7 linked regions of the Homo sapiens genome follow. The protein of the gene in region 1 purifies or fractionates together with the protein of each later gene. This does not show direct contact. Each region holds a gene or a part of one and is shown on either strand. Other genes may lie near its edges.

Region 1 (3,500 bases):
TTTTGTGTTTTTTGTAGAGACTGAGTTTCGCAACGTTGCCCAGGTTGGTCTCGAACTCCTGAGTTCAAGTGATCCACCCACTTTGGCCTCCCAAAGTTCTGGGATTACAGGCGTGAGCCACTGCACCTGGCAGACCCAAAAATCTTAAACTCGTTTAGTATGTTTTGCAGAAGCTGTACCATCTTCTGATTTACTAACAAACTAAGATCTTTGAAAGCCAGATATCTTAAGTATTAAAATCTTGAGAGGGGAAAAACATGACTACTAAAGATCTTTTCTTTTGCAACAAATAGAATCCTTTCCGTAATGAGAGGTCTGCTAAATGAGGTTTAAACTGCTCATATGTGTTACCATCCAAACCTGTGCCATATTTTATCTCAAGCAAATAACCATATCAGTCTGGGTAACCAAAGTTGTTCTGAAAATGATCAAAGAATAAGGCAACATTCTTGTACTCATAACACAAAAGGGCTTTTGTGAATTCTGGGTTCTTTCTGAGAAAGAAAATTATTTGGGGCTTTATTCACTGCTAACCATTATATCAAATCCTATTCCTGATTTTTCTCTCTTTGGGAGAAGCAACCTTTAAGATCCCAGGAGACATGAAGCCCTGGCACTTAGTAGCTCTTTGGACTTTTCACTGGTATTAGTTCACTGAGACTTAGTTTCTTTACATAGGTAAAGAAAGGGGATAATAATTCATACAGATTGTGAAGATTAAAATAACACAATTTTTTTAAATACAGTGCCCAGAACAGCACCTGGCACACAGTAGTTCTCTTATTCTCTCAAGATCATGGAACTGTTTCAGTAGTGAAGAGAATATAAAGGAGGATTGAGCCCTGGATGAGAGAATCGGCCAAATTATTAAGTTTCCTCTAACCCTGAGGCCCTTTGAGTCAATATGTGGTTAATTACATTCTTTTTAGGAAGGTTCTTTTGCTGATTAATTCCTGAAAGCAGAAATCTAAGTTTGTTTGTTTTTTTTCCCAAAAGAAATTTAGGCTTCCATCACATTAAGGTTTTTGTGAGACTGAGCGTCATTAGCAGCATTTGAAAAATAGCTGGGTTAAGGCCAGTATGCATTGTGAATCAAATCTCCAAATACAGCATGTCATATACAGTGCTTTTCAACCTTATTTGAATATAGCATGCCTATTAACAGCCATGGAATTTGTAGATTTGTTTGGGAAACACCAATCTAGACTATTCTCAGATGCTATTTTTCATTTTCATTGAGAACTTTCTTAAGGCGGAAGTAAGAGTTAAAATCAAATCTTAATCCCTCAAATCTTTGAAGAAGACCTAAGAGCTTTTCTCCAGCCTCTCCTACCCCGACAAATGCTTATACCACCACTATTTGAATACTTCTATTGATGGCCAGTGCACAGCCAGCTTCGTGATTTAATGGTGTTTTTTTCTATATTGAGCAAAATGTCTGTCACCTGCTAGTTTCCAATCATCTGTACCACCATTCATCTCTCTTCCATGCAACAACTCTTTTATGTATTTGAAATAAATCATTAGTTTTCTAGTTTTATATCCAGGAGAAAAACTCCAAATCCTTCACCTGTTTTTCTGTTAGGATTTCTGTATCCTTTCACCATTTCAGTTGCTGTCTTTTGGACATAATTTATTTGGTCAGCATCCCTCTTAAAGCAACTATATTTGAACACAGCACCTCACATACCCTCCAACCAGTAGAGAACATGTCTGTGTCTACACTGTTACCTCCTACATGAAATACAACATTCTTCTTTTAATGAAATTTAACAATTACGTCTTCTCATTAATTCATATGAGAAGTCAAGATCAACCCTATTTCTTTTTTTTCAAAACAAAGTTATGTTTTCCCACTCTGTTCCCCAAAAAGCAGAATCCAAATTTTTGGTAATTGACTAGACTGTAGAAATCATGTAGTTGTATGAACTCCTATATTTATTTGTGTATGAGTACTGAGTCTATACACTTAATTTTTTTCTTATGAGTACTGAGTCTATACACTTAATTTTTTTCTTAAGTTATATAACATAATTAGCATTACAACAGTAAACAGGAGAAAAATTTTAATGGCAAGAAAAAGAAGTCACATCACCACCATCTTAACACATTGATTTCTTATTCATTTTTTTCATGTGTCCTTGTCTGATGAGAAATAAAACTCAACAGGTAGAAAATCAAATGTTTCGATGAAGTTACGGTCCTTTACATCTATAACAGTCCCCCAATTATCAGCTTACCAATCATGTTAGAAAAAAAAAAAGCTTAGGTTAGTATTTTGTATTAGAAAGTCCATGTTGTCTCCCAAGATTTACCTCATACTTGTATAAACATGTACAAATGTCTATAGTGTTTCCTTAAAATTCTACAGAAAATTAGCATATGGCTTTCTAGTCTGCAATTTATGGAACGCAGTGTTTATATCCTCAAAAAGTTTAGTCATTATTTACCTTTTTCCTATAGTCTGGCACCTACCTTACTATTCATAATTTCTCAAAAGGGCAAATTCTCTTATTATGGTGAGATATAATTCTGGTCCTGGAGACTTGAACTCATTTAAGAAGGCCAAGCACTTAGTCATCAACTGCTGAGCTACCGTGAACTTCAGTGTTCTCCCACTTCAACTTGTTCCACTTGCTATAGTTTGTTCACCATTCTCCTCACTGAAGAGAAAGATAGGTAACATAGGTATTGCGAACCCCTATTTTCTTGCTATCCTCTGTAACATGATACTAGTTTCTATAAGTTGTAGACAAGACATGTCTCCTTATTTTGAAAGTATAGGTTGAGTATCCCAAATCTGAAAATCCAAAATCCCAAATCATCTAAAATTTGAAACTTTTTTTTTTTTTTTTTTGAGATGGATTCTCACTCTGTCACCTAGGCTGGAGTGCAATGGCATGGTCTCAGCTCACTGCAACCTCCACCTCCTGGGTTCAAGCAATTCTCCCACCTCAGCCTTCCGAATAGCTGGGACTACAGGCGCATGCCACCACACCTGGCTAATTTTTATATTTTTAGTAGAGACGGCATTTCACTATGTTGGCCAGGTTGGTCTCGAACCCCTGACCTCATGATCCATCCGCCTCAGCCTCCCAAAGTGCTGGGATTACAGGCGTAATCCCACCCTGCCCAGCCTTTATTTTTTAATTTGGGATGCTCAAACAGTATATAATACAAATATGCCAAAATCTAAAAAAATAAAAAATGTAAAACACTTCTGGTCCCACTCATTTTGGAGAAGAGATATTCAACCAGTATTGGAAAAAGCTCTTTGCACTGTCTTTAGCTCTTTTACTTTGGTACATACACTCAGCTTGTTTTGATTTTGAGCATCTTGGACATGCTACTGATCCACCTGAGTTGGTATCCTCTTCTTCCTTCTACTGTGCATGTCCTCTTAAAATAGGGGTTGAGGAGGGGCTTTCTTCCTTCTTCTGTCATTGAGATCATTCATGATTGATTTCTTTTAGACTCTCATTACTCTGCAAAGGAATTTT
Region 2 (3,500 bases), on another chromosome or scaffold:
TGGGGCACCCCTGCTGGCAACCCCTGGGGCTGGAGAAGCAGCCTCTGGGTGGGCAGGGACCTCCAGAGCAAAGGGGACGCCTTCCAGGTGGGAAGCCCATGCCGGGCAGAAGCTCCACGTGGAAAAAGCCAGTGACTTCCCAAAGCCAGTGCAGAAGGCGGCAGGAGCCCCACCTTAACTACCACGGACCACAGCCGGGATCGCCTGGTGCTGCCTTGCCAGGTCGCAGGCTCCTTCTATCCTGACAAATGGGTTCAAATCTTCGCTTTGACTTTTTTGGACAATATAAACTGAAATAAATGACTCCATCTCTCTGCATGTCAGTTTGATCCTCAGTAAGGTGGGGGCCCCTCCTGCCTGGCAGGGCTGTGCCACTGGTGGGGTACCAAATAGGTAACAAGCGCCTCCTGAACGGGGCCCCCGAAGCACTGTGGCCGTCCACGCAGTCACTCCAGGTTACAGTCCAGGACATTTGGCAAATTATGCACACTTGGCAAATCAGAAACTGAGGCTGGAAGACACCAAGCCCCTCTGCCCAACAGCAGGGCAAAAGCTGAGAGCCTGGGGCTCTGCCAGGCCCCCAGAGCCTCGCCCCCACTCCCCTGCCTAGTGCTGGCGGTGGGAAAGGCAGACCAGGGCTGCGGCCAGTGTGGTGCGTCTGTGCGAGGCCGTGGCCTGGTGTGAACTGCAGGACCCACACAAAAGGGAGGCGCCCTCCTGAGAAGCCAAAACTCAACAAGTCGCGGTCTTGAAAATACTGACACTGAACCCCATGTCTACAAATGACAAGCAACTTCCTGCCAACAATGCCAGCGGCCTGTCCTGAGGGGTCCGACTAGCTTTGTGCGTGACCTCAGGTTAACTGCTCACAGCTACAGAAGGAATGAGCCCCGCGGGGGGGCACGGTCGAGGACCCTGACAGCCTGTGACACGGGGCGGTTCCTGCCATGTGGGGCTGTGCTGGGGGCATCCCGTGGCTGACGCAGGTCCTGGCGGGGGACCCTTCCGGAGCAGCTCCAACTCGGCAGACATGGGGTGCGTCTCCTAGCCCGCCAGTGCCACCCAGCTCAGGCCAGGGCAAACCCACTGGGGATCCAAGGAATGAGCCGGGACACCCCGAGGAGAGCAGACTGTAACCGACAGACCATCAGCCACAGTGCGCGGCAGTGTGCGGCAGAGCGCGCAGTCCTAGGCAGGGCCCTGGGTGGCTCCTGCGGTTTCGGGTTTCAACTCCAAAGTGGACGGGCCTTCTGGCGTGGGGAGAGGTCCCCGTCACCCCTGAACTTTAGCAATCTCTCTGCAAACAAGAAGGCCGGATCACACAGACTCCGTAATTCCTGCTGAATGTTTCCAAAATACGAAAGCACCCAATGAGGGAGATGGGAAAGCAAGCCACAGTGTCCTTCTCTTGCCCCTAGTTATACCCCAGGTCCATGGGAGGATTCGCCATGGGCAGAGGCGCCTTTCAGCCGGGACAGCCACAAGAGGCTTCGCTCAGGGACAGGCGAGGTGAGTGCGGCATAGGCTGCTCCCCTGGGGCCCGGGGCGGCCAGAGCCCACTACTCACAGTGCCACTCCGCGCCCGCTGCGCCGGGCCGAGCTCGGGTGATGCACTCATCAGCCCGGAGCTGCCTGCATAGTTCTCTCCCCAGCTGTACTGGTTAGGATCTGGAAAGCAAGAAGCCAGGTCACTTGTGTTAACCTTGCCCTTGATTCAAAAGCAGGAGAGTGGAGGAGGAAAGGGTATAAAATCGCTTATTAACTAAATTGTTAAAATGTTAGACATGCCTGCTGCTGTCACTTTCTGAGGACTCACGCTCCCCACCCCACCTCCACCCTGGGCCGCCCTGGCCTGGAGCACAGGCCCAGGCCACAGCTGAGGCCCCACGCTGCTCAGGGGCGCCAGCACCGCGACTCACTGTCCTGCTCAGCTCCTTTCAGGAACGCTCCGATGGCTCCCAGGTAGCCTTCGTGCCTCAGAAACAGCGCCTGCACTTCCCCCTGCCGTGGCCAAAGCACACGTGCTGCTGTTGGCCCCACACAACACCCGGTGCCTCCGCAAACCAGCTCAACGTGCGCGGGCCTCGCACCGCGCGGCCCAAACCCTCGAAGAGGCGCCATGGCACCCACGGCATACTTGCCAGTGGAATCGCGCCTGGCACCAGAGGGCGGGCTGCTGTTTGAAGAAAGCTAAGGGTGAGATAGCTTCTCCCATGCAGCGAGTCCCTGGCCCACAAGTCTCTGCGTCAGGCATGTGGGTGGGCGTGCCTCTGCGGGGGCAGGGGCACCCTGACCCCAGCGCAGATCAGCAGGCCTGCCTGGAGCTCTCTAGAATGCTCATCACTGGTGATGTACTCAAACTCAGGTGGCCACGGTGCCACAAAATGTAGGCTGCCCAGAATCAGTCAGAAGGGAGGGGTGCTGGGCTTCTTGGCCCCCACCCTCCAGGCCTCCCTGGGGGTGCTGCGGTGTCTAACCAGCATGACTGATTGGGAAGATCCTGGGGGGTCTGCGTTAGAGGCTGGGGAGGGCGGCGCATCCGTTACCTTGGAGAAGAAGTTGATGCTATAGGTGATGGTGCGCATGGTCACGGGGTGGCCCCGGATAAAGAAGCCTCCAAAGTACACGCGGTCCAGGCTGTGCAGCCGTGCGTGGAGGCAGGCCAGCTGCCCAATGTCGTTGCTGATCATGTGCAGCAGGCTCTTCGCCATGTCTTCTTTGGAGAACTCTGAGGAAGGGAAGGAAAAGGCACTCATCTCCAAGTACAGCAAGTGCACGACATGAGAGCGAGCAGGAGGGGAGGGGGAGAGAGAGCTGAGTGGGAGGGGAGGGGGAGAGAGAGCTGAGTGGGAGGGGAGGGGGAGAGAGAGCTGAGTGGGGGAACTGGAGCCCAAGTGCGGGAGGCTGCGTGTGATGTGTGAATCATTCCTGGACGGATTAAGCTTTGTTTTGAAGGAGGAAAAAACCCAATCAGGAAACTATTTTTTCTTCCAAAACCAAGACCGTGGCGTTTATCTGCCGACGTTCTGAGCAGTGGGCCTGAGCTGCAGCGACTCGGCAGGAAGAGGTTACAGGGCTGACACCCAAGACCCCGACTCTCCAGGGAGCAGTTGTGGGAAAGCAATGGTGGGGGAAGCTCCTGTCCGTGAGACCCCAAGTGTCCCCACCATCCTGCTCTCTGGCGGCAGAGGCCGGGGTGAGCACCTTGGTCGGCGGTGGCCGACTTCCCGAAGCTGCTGGCGATGAGGTTCCCGCTCAGCCCGAGAGTCTGGTGGGCGCCGCCGTAGACGTCCCGCACCAGCATGTCCACATTGCTGTGCTGGCCCCTCGAGGCCAGGTGCAGGAGCTCGTCAAACTTCTGCAGGACACGGCGAGGGGGCGGGTGAGGCGCCAGGAGCTGCTGGAATCCCCACGACCCCAGAAACCAAGCCCATGGCAGGAGGCACGCGCGGGCAGGGGGTAAATGGGCCCTCATCGCGTGGGACCAAAGGCAGGAGGCG
Region 3 (3,500 bases), on another chromosome or scaffold:
TTCACTTGAGGTCAGGAGTTTGAGACCAGCATGGCCATCATGGTGAAACCCCGTGTCTACTAAAAATACAAAAATTAGCCGGGTGTGGTTTCTGATGCCTGAAATCCCAGCTACTTGGGAGGCTGAGGCAGGAGAATTACTTGTACCTGGGAGGCAGAGGTTGCAGTGAGCCAAGATCACGCCACTGCACTCCAGCCTGGGCGACAGAGTGAGACTGTCACAAAAAAAAAAAAAAGCTGATTGTAGTATGTTATTGATTAGTCTTGTGTCTAATCCATGTTTTTAAGATTCTTTTCCTTAAGACAAGTGATCAATTCCTGTCATAAATGAAAAAAGTGAGTGTAATTAATTCAAATAAAATTTATCTGTTCTTATGCTTCTAGTTATTTTAAAATTTTATGCAGATTTTCTATGGACATGATTGGTTTCAAATGAAGAAACAGTGCTGTTAAAATACATGAATCATATAACAGGAATGCTGTAATAGTTCTGAGTATGTAGAGGACTAGGAACCGCTTAGATTGTGTATTCTGTTTCTTACCATTTGTAGACATGAATAATCATCTTGATTTTATTTAGATACCTGAAGTTATAATGATTCCTTTATAATTAAATATTAAAGAAGATATTCAGATGTAATTTTGCAAATTTATGGAAATAGTTGTTATCCTAAGGTGTTTTCATTTGCTCCTTACATGCCTTAGGTTTTAAAATTGTAGGCTGGCTGGGTGTGGTTCCTCATGCCTGTATTTCCAGCATTTTGGGAGGCCGAGGTGAGAGGATTTCTTGAGGCCAAGAGTTTGAGACTAGCCTGGGTTAGTATAACAAGACCCCATATCTAGTAAAAATAAAAATAAAATTACAGGCTTTTTAAAAAGTTACGATTCTTTTAACCTCTCTGGCAGACCCAAATTAAATATTCTAGGACAGGAGTGTCCAGTCTTTTGGCTTCCCTGGGCCACATTGGAAGAGGAATTGTCTTGGGCCACACATGAAATACACTAACAATAGCTGATGAACTAAAAAAATCACCAAAAAAATTTCATAATGTTTTAAGAAAGTTTGTGAATTTGTGTTGGGCCTCATGCAGCCCGTGGGCCATGGGTTGGACAAGTTTGCCTGGAAACAAGTTTGTACTTACGATCACATGACCAATGTTGGTCCCGCTTGATTTTCTATCTCCCAGCTTGACCAGTGTCTCAGTAGGGTTGCCCAGAGGAGGAAAACTCATTTGATCCAATAATTTATGTGGATTTTAACCATTCAAACCTCCTTCTGAAATCAAGCCACTTAAAGTGGCCCAGATAGGTGAAAATCTGGAGGTCTGTGAAACTCTAGGTTTAGGTCCTCTTCACGAGCTAGGCCCAGGCCCCTGGTGTTACGTGTCTTGTTACCAGACTAGGGTGATTTCATCAGCATTGAGTTAGATCACCAACAAAATGAAGGTTTCTCCAGTGCGTGCTATGTTGCTGGCACAGTGCTTAATAAGGTCCAGTCGTACAGAGAAGCTTATAGTGCTAGAATAATTGCATTTGCATTTATGTAATTGACATTTGTAGTTGATTGTGGCCTGCTTTATCGGGCTTATGCTACTTTATATGTTGAATTTAGGAGTGTTTGAAACAGAAACAAACCAAAACCAAATTTGGTTTCATCTTGCAAAATGCTTTGGTATAAGTAGAATAAATATTTTGGTGGCCTAAGATCAGAACAGTCACTGTGCAGTTAACTTACTAAAGAACATCAGTACCATGAGATAAAATTAGTAAGGGGAAAATAAATATTAAATAAGCCCAAATGGGGCTTTATAAATCCCAGGTTATTATTTTTTTGAAGAGAAAAAAAAAATGTACTTTTAGAGCAGATGTAGATAGAATTTTTCATTTTTGCTTGAAAGAACATTATACTGTTCATATTCTTACCATTTGATGACTCAGTGGGAAGTAAGGGAACTAGTTTAAACCACACTGCTGTGAAGAGGAAACTATATATGGTAAAATCTATTTCTTAAACACAGCCTTACTGCACACAATGAAAGAACGAAGTCACCAAGTCTTAAAATGATTGACATGGGGGAGGAATTTCAAGGATTAAGATGATACCAATGATACCAAATGATAGTTTAGAAAGGAATGTTTTCTTTGTATTTTATCACATCATGGTTTAGTTTTTTTTTTTTTTTTAGACAGAGTCTTGCTCCGTTGCCCAGGCCAGAGTGCAGTGGCATGATTTTGGCTTACTGCAGCCTCCATCTCCCGGGTTCAAGCAATTCTCCTGCCTCAGCCTCCCCAGTAGCTGGGATCACAGGTGTGCACCACCACGCCAGGCTAATTTTTGTATTTTTAGTAGAGATGTGGTTTCTCCATGTTCGTCAGGCTGGTCTCCAACTCCTGACGTCAGGTGATCTGCCTGCCTCAGCCTCCCAAAGTGCTGGGATTATAGGCGTGAGCACTGCGCCCAGTCTAGATTTTTTTTAATACTGATTATTATTATTATTTGCAGAAGTAATCAGATTGTCAGTTTTATATTATTGAAAAATTGGGGCCAGGCACAGTGGTTGATGCCTATAATCCCAGCACTTTGGGAGGTAAAGGTGGGAGGATTGCTTGAGGCTGGGAGTTCAAGACCATCCTGAGCAACAGCGAGACCCCTGTCTCCACAAAAAATAATATAATTTAAAAATTATAATTTTTATTTTTTCTTTACTGCTTCTTGCAGAGCAGGACTACCCCATAGGCAGTGTGCCCAGAGTAGCCAGTATAATTTTTTTTTTAATTATTTTATTTTATTATTGTTTTTGAGACAGAGTCTCACTCTGTCTCCCAGGCTGGAGTGTATTCATGTTATCTCGGCTCACTGCAACCTCCGCCTCCCAGGTTCAAGTGATTCTTCTGCCCCAGCCTCTCAAGTAGCTGGGATTACAGGCATGCACCACCACGCCCAGCCAATTTTGTACTTTTAGTAGAGATGGGGTTTCACCATATTGGCCAGGCTGGTTTCGAACTCCTGACCTCAAATGATCCTCCTGCCTTGGCCTCCTAAAGTGCTGGGATTACAGGTGTGAGCCCCCACACTCAGCCTTTTTTTTTCCTGACAGGGTCTCACTCTGTTGCCTAGGTGGGAGTGCAGTGGTACAATCATGGCTCAAGGCTCAACGTAGCCTCAACCTCCCTGGGCTCAGGTGATCCTCCCACCTCAGCCTCCCGAGTTTCTGGGGCTACAGGTGTGTGTCACCACGCCTGGCTAATTTTTGTATTTTTTGTAGAAATGGGGTTTTGCTCTGTAGCTTCAGGCTGGTCTCGAACTCCTGGGCCCAAGCAATCCACCCACTTTGGCTTCCTACAGTGCCAAGATTACAGGTGTGAGCCACCATTCCCAGCCAATTATTTTAGTTCTTGTTATTATAACTGTTAATGTTTTCACTTTTGAAGTAATGTGAAATAGTGCAATTTTTGCTATCTTGATGGATGAATATATACCCTGTATGAAAACTGGTGCTG
Region 4 (3,500 bases), on another chromosome or scaffold:
TAGCTGGGGTAGGGCTTTGCTTTTCTGAAACCAGATGGTGATGATTATGTAGGATCTTAGGGATTCCATCTTTTCTGCTGCTAGGGGATACATATGTTCCCCCGGCAAGTTAAACTGTGTGCATGTTAGGACTGGAGATCTACTACCAAGAATGCGGTCTCAGGACCTTATTACCACAGGCTTTCATTAAAATTTGTTTCACTCAGATGGAGGTTGCCAGATGTAAAATCAGCCTCTTGTTTTCCTAGCCGCTTGTTTGGGAACAAGCCTGGGGACATTTGCAGGCAGGAAGCATGTCCTACTCACCTGGGCACAGCAGGTGCTTGGTAACTGGCAGATGCTACTCTTTGTAGCAAACTGATCTTTTTTTAATTTTTTTTTTATGTTTTTGAGATGGAGTCTCACTTTGTCGCCAGGCTGCAGTGCAGTGCCACGATCTTGGCTCACTGCAACCTGCGCCTCCCGGGTTCAAGCGATTCTCCTGCCCCAGCCTCCTGAGTAGCTGGGACTACCGGCATGTACCACCATGCCTGGCTAATTTTTGTATTTTTAGTAGAGATGGGGTTTTACTATGTTGGCCAGGCTGGTCTGGAGCTCCTGACCTCAAGTGATCAGCCTACCTCGGCCTCCCAAAGTGCTGGGATTACAGGCGTGAGCCACCGCACCCGGCCAGCAAACTGATCTTAAAATGTAATACTTTCCTTCCGACTTCTCAAATGTTGCTGGTTGAATAAACGGTTTGATTACTGTATTTTGATTCTGCTAAAGCTAGGCAACTTGGTTCTTTTACCCCTCCTCCTTTATAGCCATAGTAGCCCTCTCTCCACCTCCCCTCACTTATTCTATTTTTTTCTCCCTTTTCTAAGACCAAAAGTGAAGTTAAGAAGGTGGAAGGGAGAAGGAAGACATTTTACAAAAAGGATACTCTTCTACTAAAAGATAACCCCGCACGGCATTTCACACTTGCCTACGTCACCCTGCTTTCCACGCACCTCCTCAGAGGGAGGGGCTGTTATTGTTCCTGTTTTATGAAAAAAGCCGAGAGAGGCTACAGAACCTGTTTGATGTGATAGCTAATTATGGTCCGCGGAGCCTCAAACCGAGTCGGGCCTGTGACTCCGAGCTGCGCTGCCTCGTATTGATTGTCATGCCTTTCTCCAAATACGCACCAGATAAACTATTGTATCTATTCAGTATGATTGTTCTAACTCTGGCTTTGAGCTGTCGAGGTGGCTTCTACCTTAGGTCTAGTTTTTGGAAAGGTGAAGCAGGAGTGGAAGCTCTCTAAGGGATACGAAATCTGATTTTATCCAAAGAAATCACAGCAGCCTTTGAAAGACACATTCAGATTTTCAAACAAACAACAGACAATTCAAAACCAGGCGCTCTGCTTATTCACTGAAACCGTAAGCTGCTGAAACTCAGGGAAAAGCTTAAGAAACTGGTCTTAAAGCTTCAGGCCAAACAATGCTTCAAATCACATTTGAAGTAATCACTTAAAAACAGTAGAAAAATCAGTTATCAATTACCTAAAACACTTATACCCAATAAAATATTCCCATGATGACAAGTGTCTGCTTCTTTCTAGATGAGTGAAAGGGATTTGCCAGCCCATACAGAGGTGCTCCTTGAAGGGCCCATGGTATGTCTCCATACAGTATCTCCTCGTCTCCACACAGTATCTCCTCATGTCTCCATACAGTATCTCCTCTCGTGGTTTTATCAAAGGACTTTTCTCCCCATAAGCTTACTGTTTACAAAGTCTCTAAAAGATGGGTGGCCAAGAATTATACAATGCATCTACATGACCAGTGATTTCTAAGGGCCACACAGCTGGTTTGGTTTATTATGTGAAAAGCATATCACACGGAGTATACAGGAAATACCTCAAGTATTTGTTGAAGGAGCATCATCAATTTCTCCTTGAACATACAGCCTCCACAAAGGACCATCCCTCATACTAGCATACTTGAGGAAAAGCTAACAGCTTATCTACCCACACCTTTGCATTGCTATGGACTGAAGGTTTAAAGTGTAGAATCGTTTTGGCTACTCAGCAGGAATGTCATCTGGGCCATTCTGTAGGAGAAAAAGCCTCTACCAAAAGTTTGCACTTGACCCAGAATGCTTTGCTCTTATTTTCAAACTCTGTGCCACCCAGAAAGGAAAATTAGTAGTGGTCACCTGCAGTTTTACAAGTTGCTAGGCATTTGACTTTAGTGATACAAAAAAGATAAAGAAATGGAGTTATATTTAGTACCCAGTTTGCTGGGATGGGGACGGGGAGAACTGGAGAAACTGGGTGGCGGTCTGGAGAATGCTTACCATCAAGTCTCTGCAGCAGGTCATTCTTGGGTAAAGAAATGACTTCCACAAACTCTAAACAGACAAAGTGCAAGTGAAAACAAAGCTAACGTCAAGAGCCTACCAAAACAACCCAAAATGTCTGCAGCCATCACCACTACACTAAGTCATACACGCTCGGCCACCAGGAGTTGCAGAACATACCTCCATCCCCTGGAAATAAACAGAAGGAAAACATTTCAGCAAGGCCTGGAGTGGTAACATCGGAAGACTTTTATACAAGAGGCGTCAAAAAGGCTTTGAGAATTTCACAGAAGCCTGGGTTTCTGCTAACTTAATTTATATACATTGTCAAACTCGAGCAGTATGAAGTTATTGTTCTCCACATAATGTTAAGTAGCAAAATTTAAAGCATATTCGATAGTATGTATATTTTTATAGATATGAATCTGCGTATTATGTAAAATATACAGAACATATAAAAACTTACCTTTTAACCACTATGAAGGTACAATTCAGTAGCATTAAATAACATTCAAAAAGGTGCACAACCACCACCAGTATCCATCTCCAGAACTTTTCATGACACCCAACAGAAACTCGGGATCCACTCAACACTAATTCCCCATCCCTAGTAGCGCTTACTCTACTGTCTTCCTCTATCAGTTTGTCTATTCTGGGCACCCAGATACGTAGAATCAGAGTATTTGCCCATCATGTTATCGCATGTTTCAGCGTGTATGTGTGTTTGTGTGTATACCACACTTTGTGGATGCATTCATCTGCTGGCAGACACCTGGGTTGTTTCCACAGAGGCGGCCATGAACACAGGCACGCAAGTATATGAGTCCCTGTTTCACTTCTTCTGGGTGTAGACTTAGGAGATGAAATGCCAGATCATATAATAATTCTGTATCTAATATGCTGAGGAACTGCCAAACTTTTCCACAGTGTCTCATATGTATATGTGCAGTTCAAAAATTAAGATTTATTTTATTTATTTATTTATTTATTTATTTATTTATTTATTTATTTATTTATTTTTTGGAGACAGGGTCTCAGTCTGTTGCCCGGGCTGGAGTGCAGTGGTGTGATCTTGACTCACTGCAACCTCCGCCTCCTGGGTTCAAGTGATTCTTGTGTCTCAGCTTCCCGAGTAGCTGGGATTACAGGTGCGCACCACCATGCCTGGCTAA
Region 5 (3,500 bases), on another chromosome or scaffold:
TTGGAGAAGTATTTGAACAAGTATTTAACATCTTTGAGTCTGTTTTCTGATCTGTAAAAATGGAAATAATGACACCTACTGTAAGGATTAAATGAAATTATGTATACAATGCAAGTGACATAGTCAATAAATGGCAGATCACTATTGTTTTTTATTATCTCTATTTTTTAAAATTCTAGCTTCAAATGATACTTATCATGGAGACTTTTTGGTTCCCCTTCCCTGACCTAAAGGGATCTCTCTGAGCACACACCTTTTGGCTCTTACCACATCCTGCCCTCCGTTGTGATTCTGTACTTGGCTTATTCACTCATCTCGTGGACTGGGAGCCCTTTGAACTCAAAGGCTAGGTCTTACTGATCTTGGTCCCCAGCCACTGAAAGTTTGGCCCAGGGTCTTCCCCACAGCTGGCCCTCAAGGAATGCTTGCTGGGTGAATGGAGAATGTCTACATAATGGGAGGAGAGACACTGGGTGCCGGGTGTGCTTGTTATGGAGGTTATCTGTGCAAAAGCTGTGTGCATAGGATGGGCTCCCTAGGAGAAGATAATGCAGTCGTGATGGGATCTGTGTGGGGGCTGTGTGATTGAGATAATGTGTGTATAGAGAGAGTAAGGTAGCTTTGTGGGAAAGAGCTCTGCCTAGGCTGGGGTGCATCTGGGGAGAATGAGTGTGCATTTGAGTATGGAGGGGCTGTACCGGGGGAAGTTCTGTGCAGCCCTTCAGCTAGCTGCCCAGTCCAGCTCTAAATGAGTCTCCAGCAGCCTGAGGCCGGATATGTCAGTCTCACCCACAGCCCTCCCCCACTGCCAGCGGTTGCGGACTCAGAGGCCAAATTTGGTAACAGACTGAGTGTTACTCCCCCATCCCTCTTATATTCTGACTGTCTTAAGCTCTTTCCTTTTGTTCCTGTCTGTAACTCCCTATCTTTCTGCAATTCCCCTTGTGGGTATCTGCTCTGACTATATTCTCCAAGTACCCCAACTTTCTTAGCTCCAATACTCTTACATTCCATTCCTTGCTGGGATTTGACCTCCTGTCCTCCATTCCCCCCCTCCAATTGCCCAACTTCTTTGGAATGCATCGCAGGAATGTATTGAGGGAGGAGGAGTTCCCTGGGAGGGGGACACGGCAGTGGGGAGTTGCTGTTCCATCAAACACAATGGAAAAGGGAGCAAAGTTCTCAGGCCAAAGGAGGAATGAGCTAGCTTCTACTCATACTTGTAGCAGCCTTGTTCTTTGCCACCACCACCCACAATTCACTGATCAGTTCTTCGCGTCCACACACCCTCTTGTAGCTGTGTGAATATCCACTCTGGACCAGCTGGGGAGTAAGGGTAGGCATGACTCAGCTCCCTTATCGGGGTCTCACCAGAGGCTTCCGTGCTTGAGGAGGAAGGGGGTGTCTAAGTGTCCAGAGGAAATGGGGGGAGACATGCAGTTTCAGCTTAGTGTGAAGGGTCCTTTCAGTCCTGCTTCTTGGCTCCACAGACTCCTCCAGCTTCTCGGATCCACCAGCCCAGCCCTCATTCTTTCATGGTCAGCAACCCCATAGCCAGGTCTGTCCAGCTGGGACACAAGCGGATAGTAATAAGGTTGGGCAAAGTGCCCCAGGAGTGGGGAGGGGGCAGAGAGCTGGAACTGGGGAGACTGGGAGGGTCCTCTCTTATTGGGGAGTAAAGACAGAGAGCTGTGGTTCTTCTCTTTTGAGACTCTGGACTGCTTGTAAGGTCAGAAATGGTCTATCTGCCACTTGGTACCAGACCGCTGATCTAGACCATTTTCATACCTGCCTCCTGTCTCTTGTTTCTACTTAGATTTTCAATTCTCCTCATCCCATCTCTCCTAACTTCTTTACCCTCTACCCCTTCTTAACTTCCCTGGCTTTCAAATGCCTTCTGTATCCTAACACCCCCATCTCTGCTTTCCAGCCTTCCCCTCTCACCCTGCTTTTCCCCATTTGAGGCTTGTAGTTTGCCAGGAGGGGAATGGGCAGCTTGTATTTGCCCATTCTCTTAGTTAAGAGGCACCCAATCCCTGTACCAAGCAGGGGCACATCAGCAGCAGCCGGGCAGACTTGTCCTCTTGCAGCCTGTGCGCCACCTGCTGCCTCCAGTGCCTCCTCTAGCCTGCTGAGAGGGGGTGCCAGGAGGGTGGAAGAAGGTGGGGTAGGACTAGTATTCTGAGCTGCACTGAAAATACAGTCAGGGGAAGTGGGTGAGACAGAGCAGAATTCGAGACAGACTTGCTGAAGAGGAGAAAGCATGGGAGGAGTTGCAGGACTGAGTATTAACTTGATGACTTGGAACAAGCAAGGACTGAGTTACAGGGACTGGGTCCTTTCTCTGGCCTGTCTTGAAAATGTTTCCTGGCCTCCCAGAGTCTATTTCCCCTTCTCCAAAACACAAGAGTTGACCAGATAACTTCTGAGATAGATCCCTTTGAGTTAGAGAATCACATTTCTAGCTTGACTGCCTGGGAAGCCCAGTACAGGGCTAGGCTCCTTCAGAAGGCCCCCGCATCTCAGGTTAGAAAAAAGCTGGGGCAAGAGCGGACCCCTGAATGGCTTGAGCAACCAGTATTTGGTCTCCCTGCCAGGCTAGCTAGAGTTTGTTTGCAGGCTTCAAGAGCCTTAGGGAATTATAACATCTTCATTTTGCAGAGAAGGCAGCTAAAGCCATGAGAAGGAAGGTCACGTGGTGAGAAGAGAGCTCTGAAAATCCCGGACAGGGAAGAGCCAGCAGGACACAGCAGGAGACAAAGAGAGAAAAATACTGAACCAGGCAAAAATGAAAAGAAGGCAGGAGTAGGGCTGAGAAAGGTGATCAGGGACAAGGGGCAAGAGAGATACTTGGATGAAAGTAGGGAGGTACAAATTCCAGTGGTGGGGCAGGGCAGTGTCCTCAGGTAGCACTGCATTTCAGACCTGCTATTGTACCTTGCAGACCAGCTTCTCCTTTCCCTCAGATGTCTTAAATTGTTAGGACTTGGCCGGGCGTGGTGGCTCACGCCTGTAATCCCAGCACTTGGGGAGGCCAAGGTGGATCACGAGGTCAGGAGATCGAGACCATCCTGGCTAACATGGTGAAACCCCGTCTCTACTAAAAATACAAAAAATTAGCCAGGCATGGCAGCGGGCGCCTGTAGTCCCAGCTACTGGGGAGGCTGAGACAGGAGAATGGCGTGAATCCAGGAGGCGGAGCTTGCAGCGAGCTGAGATCGCACCACTGTACTCTAGCCTGGGCAACAGAACGAAACTCTGTCTCAAAAAAAAAAATTGTCAGGACTCATTCTTTTGATGTAAATAATTTTTCACTCTTTAAAATTATTAAATACAATGAAAACAACCTTATTACCATCTACTTTGGTGAGTCCCTTTCAAAAACACTCTTCCCTTGGACTCCACCATCTGGGGGGCCTCTTCTCCCACCAGAAGAGTGTATTCTAATGCCCTGATGCCATGGGTCAGGTATAGCCAGGCTGGAGAAAAGAAGCTGCCAC
Region 6 (3,500 bases), on another chromosome or scaffold:
ATTGAACTCCAAGGGTTTAGAAGTTCTCCAATTGATGCAGAGTTTTAGGAAAATGAATCTCAGATTCTTAACTACATATACACTGCAAAAATACTTTGTAAAATACTGTTGCCTAGTTTGTAAACTATGACATTGCCAGTTCGTTAGTTTTTAAACAAATGGCTATCCTTTATATGTTTTTATTTTTTTCCACCCCCCAAAAACATTAGTAAAGAAAGGGTAAAAATGATACCCATTTTCATCCTTTAATAGTATTTTGGAGTTGTGGAATGAGGGCAGCCAAGAAATCTATTCACATTTCTATTACTGAAAACTGGTACCATATGCTGTTCCTGTTATAATGATTCTTATAGTCAGAGATCTGTAGACTGAGTGAGGAGCCTGGGCATATACATGAGAATAATGGTAGCTGGTATTGAGACACTTAAGAACAATACAATAATATGGTGGACAAATAGAGAAGTTTCAGTGAGAAATGTTAGCTTGTAAGTCTCCTCTGCTTTGAAAGATTGTTTTCTGTTTTCACTCATTGTAATTTATGTTACCTTAGGGATCTTATTTTTTAAAAGAAGTTTTAAAAACCTCTTACTGTGTCTTAAAGTGTTTTCTTAAGGTATAAAGTAAATTTCTGTTTTGATTTTTTTTATTGGAAAGTTCATACAGATTGACCCTGGGACTAAGTCATTAAGAAAAAAAAAATATATTTATTCATGATCTTTAAAATACTTGCCGTTATATGAGTCAGTTAACAAAATCACTCATCCCTCTCCAAAATGTTATTTCACATTTTACTTAGCCCACTTTAAATGATGGTAGAAAAATCACTTCATTATTGGCATTTTGACATAATGAACTTCATGCATTTTCATTAATTTGGTCTACTAATTTTGAACATGATTATTAAGAGTACACAGAAGGTTCATCAAAAGCTTTATGATCCAGTGATGCTTCCCAAGTAGCCTTCTACTTATAATGAAAATGATAACATTACTGGGTCAAGTGCATAGATATTTAGATGGGAGGTAAAGTGGACTGAAGACCAAGGAGAGCTTCACCTTTTTGAAATCCATCTCTAGAAACAAACAGCAGTTCATATGCTAGACTTACATGTATGAAAGTGTTAGAAATATATAAATCTACACCTTAAAGGTTAATTCTCAAGTGGAGCTCGGGCACCATCCCAGCTCTAAGGCTATTTGCTGTTTGGGTTGTTATTATTATTATTATTATTTTGAGTTAAAGAATGTAGTATGCAATCAAAATCACTAACTTTGAAACTGAAAAGACAGCTTTGTCCAGATTGGCTACAGTAGTGGAAATAAGGAACAAAGGGGCTTTTTTAGAAAATGGTGACTTTAAAAGAAACTGTTTTAAAATTCTTCTTGCAGACTCAGTGTTCCTGAAAGTACACCTTTCACAGCAGTCTTAAAGTTTGCAGCAGAAGAAGTAAGTACAGAAGTTGGAACAACCTTTATGGAATGCGGTTTGCCAATATGCTTCAAATGTCTTTAAGAGTTGCATGCACTTTGACCCATCATTTCCATGTGGCTTCATTACTAGGTTTATGTTATCAAAAAGTAGGATGATAGTTAAGACTTACTTTCAGATATAAGAAGCATGAGTTAAACAAATTGACATATCTGATTAATGCAACCATTGAAAATTATAAGAATTTAATGAATTTTTATGAGAATTTTTATGAAAACTAAAAAGGTGCTGATTTTTAAATGTTTTTTAAAATGCAACATTATATCACATTATATTCTATATACTCATATTTTACTAGTCTTGATTCCAAAATTGCAATTTCATAGAATCTTTATCATAGTTTTCAAATTTTCTATATGAGCATGTGGACTGTCAGTAAAATTTGTTGTTTTGAAAAGTTTCTAGTTTTTTAAAACATGTTTGAATTTTCTGTTTCATAAGAAACAATTTTTTTCATCCAAAATTATTAGAAATATCTATAATGCAACTTTTTGGACATGACACTTGAAAAAGTAGCTTGATCTGTTAGAAATGGCACCCAAATGTGACTTCGGAGACTTAGGGTTCCTGTTGTAGGTGCGTCATTAGTTAGCTATGTGACATGATGCAAATCCCTCTTTTTTATTCTGCAAAATGGAAGTAGTTAATACCTGTCCTTCCTCTCTGATCAAGTGATTTCGAGTAAAAACATTATTTCCTGAAATTTTCTGTTGAAGTTAAAAGTGCTAAACAGGTACGTTGTAACCCAAATCAAAACGTTTTGGTTCAGAATCTTTTGAAAAGTTTATAGTCACAGAAAAATAATTTTCTTAACTACATTAATAAAAAATAGCTTAACACACAATCCTGCCCTGTACTTCACTGATTTATGGCAAGTCAGCCAATCCATCAGTGCTCAAAGCTCCTTGTATTGTCAGGAATCACTAACATTATTTGTCACTCATTCAGAATTAAACTGCCAACTAGTAGCATTTGTTTTGTGTCTGATAGATTCTTCATGCAGAAAGAATAAGTAAAATGAGATGGGACACAAATCTGAGTATAGCATTGTCATTACTTTTTGCTGCACAGATTACTTGCAAGAAATATTCTAGTCTGGGGCATAACAGAATCCACAAATTCCAGATTTAAGAAGTAGATCTATATAAGCTTTATTTAATATTTGTTATATTTTTTAGTTACTCATTGTGTGTCCTTTATAATGCAAAGGCATTTTTTGTGATCTTGGTTTTCTAATTAAAATAGAAGAAAATCTTAACATACAGTAGTGAATAAGAAACACCACACAACCATATATATTGATTAAGGTAGTTTATAAGTAAAGCTTACAGTAGAGTAAGCTACAGAAAAGAAAATATTAAGAAAACCATAAGAGAAAGTATATTTACTATTCATTAAGTGGAAAAGGATCACTATTATGAATCATAGGTGTTACATATTTAGAAAGGATATGACTTTCAGATCGTTGTGAGAGGGGCTTTCACAAGATAACATTGTAGAATCATTCAGTGAGAACAAAAGTTGACTCAAGAAAGCAAGAGTCTGGATTTAAATCCCTCGTAAAATTGCCTTAGTAAGCAATAATAAAATTTCCCAGCACATGACTGGGGTAAGTAATGAATTGTTGAAACCTGCAAAGAGCCCTAAATTATAAGAATTATGGGGGATCGGAGGAGGAAAATAAATGAAAACAGAAGACCATAAAAGAATACTTTGCATTCAGTAGAAAACCTGTCAGTACTGTAGGACAAAAAGGAATAGATTCTACATTTTACATCACCAGTGATGCCTCCTCATGGTTTAACCATTTCTTCCACATTCTGCCTAAAGGGAAAACTGTGTCAGCAATTGCTTTTGGTTTTTAAAGTTATAGGTTGCTACTACATGGATGTGACTAAGAAAATACATAGATTATCTTAAAATGGGCATGATGTAAAAGACTCAATCAGTAGGGTAACTAAAAACTTTGTAGTACTCTAGCTTTGGAAATCTGAGAGGCCTATATAGTTCAT
Region 7 (3,500 bases), on another chromosome or scaffold:
ACCTGTCCCAGATGTCGCTCAGCTCTGAATTTGGGGAGTGCTGCTTTCTCACTTGGCCCTGTCCACGTGGCTTCTCTGAAACATACCCTTCAAGGTTGGGGTGGCTGTGGAATGTTTCCCAGAAGACATGTTCCTATACAAAGACAGAACAGGTCACATTTCATAAATCTCACATATGAGAGGCCCATGTTTTTGTCCTAGGACATCGTAAGTTTTGAATCCCAAGGGTGTTTTGGAGCTGTGGGCTGTGCCCTTCCAGTCCCCCACAGCAGTGCTGTTGCCCAAGAATCTCCTAGCGAGAGACCAGGGGCTACTGCCAGGTGACAGAAAAGGGAACATCAGTTCCGCTATACCCACAGCTCACCTGGCGGCCTGGGGCCTGCACAGGGCCTGGTTGAGGCAGTGGACCCCATTTTTGGGCCGTCTGTGGAGTTGATGTTCCTGCCAGCTGGTCCCTCTCTGTCTTCCCTGGAACTTCACCTGCAGTTTGATGCCTGAGTTAAAATTGTTCTTCTAAATAATTCACTGTAGACTTTCTGTTTTTAGCTATGTGAAAACTTCTGAGAAACTTGGAGAGTGGAATGAGAAAGTGACCCAGTCAGACCTGTGAGTGCCTGTATCATCAGCACCTCCTCCTTCCTCCTCTCCGCCTCCTGACACTCAGTCGGGGAAGGGGGCTGTGCACACTTGGCACAAAGCTTGTTTTGGTATTTGCTGGCTATTTTTTCTTCCTATAACTTTTCTTCTCTCAGGTAAACTATCCTTTAAACTTTTGTGGAACAGGGAATAGTAGCTGAGAGAAACTCACTCAGCCACCTGACCACACTTAAAACTCCCCTCTGCCTGATATGCGTCCCTTATGTAAGAGGCCTGCACTGGTCCTGGCTGTATCTCTAACTAATAGAGCTCCTTGGCTTCCGGCAGTGCACAAGCTGGACAACACCACTTGGCCTGGGTTTGTTGGTGGCGAATTTTTGTTTGTTCTAACCCTAACCCTTTTCCCTGCTTAGCTCCAGCTGTTGGGTTCTCAGAATTCCTTTCCTCCTTTAGGGGTAGTTCTTGAGTGGAGGGCATGGTGTAGGATATGCTGGTGGAAATTTGAAATCCTCACGATCTGGGAGGCACTGCATTGTCAGAGCATCAGCCAGTGTGGATCAAGTGTGGATAGTTTTGTATGTGTGTGTCAGTGGTGTTGTTCAGAGTGACTCCTAATATTTGGAGATCCTTAAACTAGATAATAGCACTTCATTTACTTGTGCTCTGATCTGATTATAACGTCTTTAAACTGAGGAGGGGAATATTTTTAAATAGTCTCTGTGGGATTTTTTCATCTGTTATTTAGAAGGAAGCGCTGTAATCGTTGCCACAGAACATGGGCAGAAAGTCCTCCCATGTTGGTCTGAAAGGAAGCAGTTGCTGCCGAGCTTGTCTTGAAGGTCCTGGGGGACCAGGCTGGCACTGCGTGCACATGGAGCCTTTGCGTCTGGTGTCACGGTGGGAGGCTGGTGTCAGGAACCCCGGGCGGTTCTCGGCATGTTGCCCCGGGTATTCCAGGGACCCGGGTGGTTCGTGGGCATGGCTACAGCAGCCAGCTGTACATCTGGGTGCTCTGGGGACCCGGGCGGTTCACGGCATGTTGCCCTGGGTATTCCAGGGACCCGGGCGGTTTGTGGGCATGGCTACAGCAGCCAGCTGTACATCTGGGTGCTCTGGGGACCCGGGTGGTTCATGGCATGTTGCCCTGGGTTTTTTTTGTTTGTTTGGTTTTTTTTTTGAGACAACGTCTCGTTCTGTCTCCCAGGCTGGAGTGCAGTGGCGCCATCTGGGCTCACTGCAAGCTCCGCCTCCCGGGTTCACACCATTCTCCTGCCTCAGCCTCCCCAGTAGCTGGGACTACAGGCGCCCGCCACCACGCCCGGCTAATTTTTTCTATTTTTAGTAGAGACAGGATTTCACCATGTCAGCCAGGATGGTCTCAATCTCCTGACCTCGTGATCCGCCTGCCTCAGCCTCCCAAAGTGCTGGGACTACAGGCGCCCACCACCACGCCCGGCTAATTTTTTGTATTTTTAGTAGAGACAGGGTTTCATGGTGTTAGCCAGGATGGTTTCGATCTCCTGACCTCGTGATCCGCCCATCTCGGCCTCCCAAAGTGCTGGGATGACAGGCGTGACCCACTGCACCCGGCTTGAGCAGGGTGTTCTAGGGACCCTGGTGGGCTGTGTCTCGGGCTGTTGAACAGTGACTTTGCTGGGCAGCAGATGGTTCCTAGGTTGGGACAGTGACGGTCATCCTTGCAGTTTGGGCATCAGGCGGACGCACAGTGCAGACTCAGTCTGAAAATAGTCTTAGGAGACTTCAGTGCTGTTTTGTAAAACCAACTGACATAAAGCTGCCGGGATCCTATTTCAAATAAATAGTGTTTTAGAGAGCTTATTACAACACTCAGCGTCCCGACCCCTCTGGAGAAACCTGTGGCTCAGCATGGAAGCATATGGCCAGTGCATCACCTGGCCGAGGCCATTCCCCTGAGTTCTGTGGCGAGAGCTGTCAACTGACGGTTCCAGAGTGGAAGCGTTTCTGCCGGGAAGGCCCAGGCCGAGGGCGATGGTTTCTGCCGGGACGGCCCAGGCCGAGGGCGATGGTTTCTGGTGGGAAGGCCCAGGCCGAGGGCGATGGTTTCTGCCGGGACGGCCGAGGCCGAGGGCGGTGGTTTCTGCCGGGACGGCCCAGACGGAAGGGATGCGGCTTGGGAGGTGGGGCCTGAGGATGTGGCCATGGCGCGTGCTCTTCCTGGCTGGTGCCTCTCCTAGTCAGCTTCAGGAGATGGGCTGTAGATGTACCTCCACTGCCCAGAGCTCTGCAGGGGAAGGCAGTAAAAGCTCCCTGCATCCTGACCCACGTGTTTGTAGATCCTTTCAGCTATTGGCGCCCTGGAGGATGGACGGGAAGGAGAACGTGGCCGGTGGGTGGAGGATAGCACTGGTGCCTGGCCCCATGAGGCTGCAATGCGGCCACATTCTCAGTGGGTCATGTCTGAATGCGAGAGCAGCTGTGTTCTGCGAGTGGTGAAACAATTGCCTGTTGCATTCTATTTATAGGCAGAGGTAACTAAAAACCTCAGTGCTGAGAGGGGCATCATATAGATCCTGCAGTTATGAGCTGGTTCACTTGGAGTTGTTTTGGTTGCAGGTGACAGAAAGCACGACTCAAGGTAGCATCAACCAAACAGGGAGGTGGGAGCACTCACCAGGCAGAGAAGTCCCTGCCCCCACTGCTGCAGCCCAACAGTGTGGCCCCATATGGGTCTCCCTGGACTAATGGCTGCGGCCTTGGAGGTGGTGTGCTCTGGCCAGGCCTGGATCACTTGTCCATCCTGAGTGGGAGTGGGGGCAGCCCCCAGAGACAGACTCAGGAGAGGGGGAGTGCAAGGATGTCCCCCAGATGCCCTGTGCTGCCCAGGGGACAGCTCACTGGCAGTGGGACGAAACCGCTGTCTG

The links.
Region 2: the proteins of EFL1 (region 1) and PANK4 fractionate together in Homo sapiens (co-fractionation; one large-scale study listed by BioGRID). This does not show direct contact.
Region 3: the proteins of EFL1 (region 1) and ACTR2 fractionate together in Homo sapiens (co-fractionation; one large-scale study listed by BioGRID). This does not show direct contact.
Region 4: the proteins of EFL1 (region 1) and NUDT5 fractionate together in Homo sapiens (co-fractionation; one large-scale study listed by BioGRID). This does not show direct contact.
Region 5: the proteins of EFL1 (region 1) and TLN1 fractionate together in Homo sapiens (co-fractionation; one large-scale study listed by BioGRID). This does not show direct contact.
Region 6: the proteins of EFL1 (region 1) and UFM1 fractionate together in Homo sapiens (co-fractionation; one large-scale study listed by BioGRID). This does not show direct contact.
Region 7: the proteins of EFL1 (region 1) and TPD52L2 fractionate together in Homo sapiens (co-fractionation; one large-scale study listed by BioGRID). This does not show direct contact.

What each region holds. Positions count from the first base shown.
Region 1 is NC_000015.10:82,147,735-82,151,234, reverse strand, and holds part of EFL1 (elongation factor-like GTPase 1), read left to right. Parts: intron 1-3,500. UniProt on the Homo sapiens protein: GTPase involved in the biogenesis of the 60S ribosomal subunit and translational activation of ribosomes.
Region 2 is NC_000001.11:2,516,597-2,520,096, forward strand, and holds part of PANK4 (4'-phosphopantetheine phosphatase), read right to left. Parts: intron 3,359-3,500; coding exon 3,205-3,358; intron 2,729-3,204; coding exon 2,547-2,728; intron 2,002-2,546; coding exon 1,920-2,001; intron 1,669-1,919; coding exon 1,568-1,668; intron 1,298-1,567; coding exon of another isoform or gene 1,286-1,297; exon of another isoform or gene 1-1,285. UniProt on the Homo sapiens protein: Phosphatase which shows a preference for 4'-phosphopantetheine and its oxidatively damaged forms (sulfonate or S-sulfonate), providing strong indirect evidence that the phosphatase activity pre-empts damage in the coenzyme A (CoA) pathway.
Region 3 is NC_000002.12:65,230,831-65,234,330, forward strand, and holds part of ACTR2 (actin-related protein 2), read left to right. Parts: intron 1-3,500. UniProt on the Homo sapiens protein: ATP-binding component of the Arp2/3 complex, a multiprotein complex that mediates actin polymerization upon stimulation by nucleation-promoting factor (NPF).
Region 4 is NC_000010.11:12,168,392-12,171,891, forward strand, and holds part of NUDT5 (ADP-sugar pyrophosphatase), read right to left. Parts: intron 2,518-3,500; coding exon 2,509-2,517; intron 2,380-2,508; coding exon 2,326-2,379; intron 1,568-2,325; exon of another isoform or gene 937-1,567; coding exon of another isoform or gene 867-936; intron 1-866. UniProt on the Homo sapiens protein: Enzyme that can either act as an ADP-sugar pyrophosphatase in absence of diphosphate or catalyze the synthesis of ATP in presence of diphosphate.
Region 5 is NC_000009.12:35,725,696-35,729,195, reverse strand, and holds part of TLN1 (talin-1), read left to right. Parts: intron 1-3,468; 5' UTR 3,469-3,500. UniProt on the Homo sapiens protein: High molecular weight cytoskeletal protein concentrated at regions of cell-matrix and cell-cell contacts. Involved in connections of major cytoskeletal structures to the plasma membrane.
Region 6 is NC_000013.11:38,352,851-38,356,350, forward strand, and holds part of UFM1 (ubiquitin-fold modifier 1), read left to right. Parts: intron 1-1,388; coding exon 1,389-1,446; intron 1,447-2,160; exon of another isoform or gene 2,161-2,221; intron 2,222-3,500. UniProt on the Homo sapiens protein: Ubiquitin-like modifier which can be covalently attached via an isopeptide bond to lysine residues of substrate proteins as a monomer or a lysine-linked polymer.
Region 7 is NC_000020.11:63,875,270-63,878,769, forward strand, and holds part of TPD52L2 (tumor protein D54), read left to right. Parts: intron 1-546; coding exon 547-606; intron 607-3,500.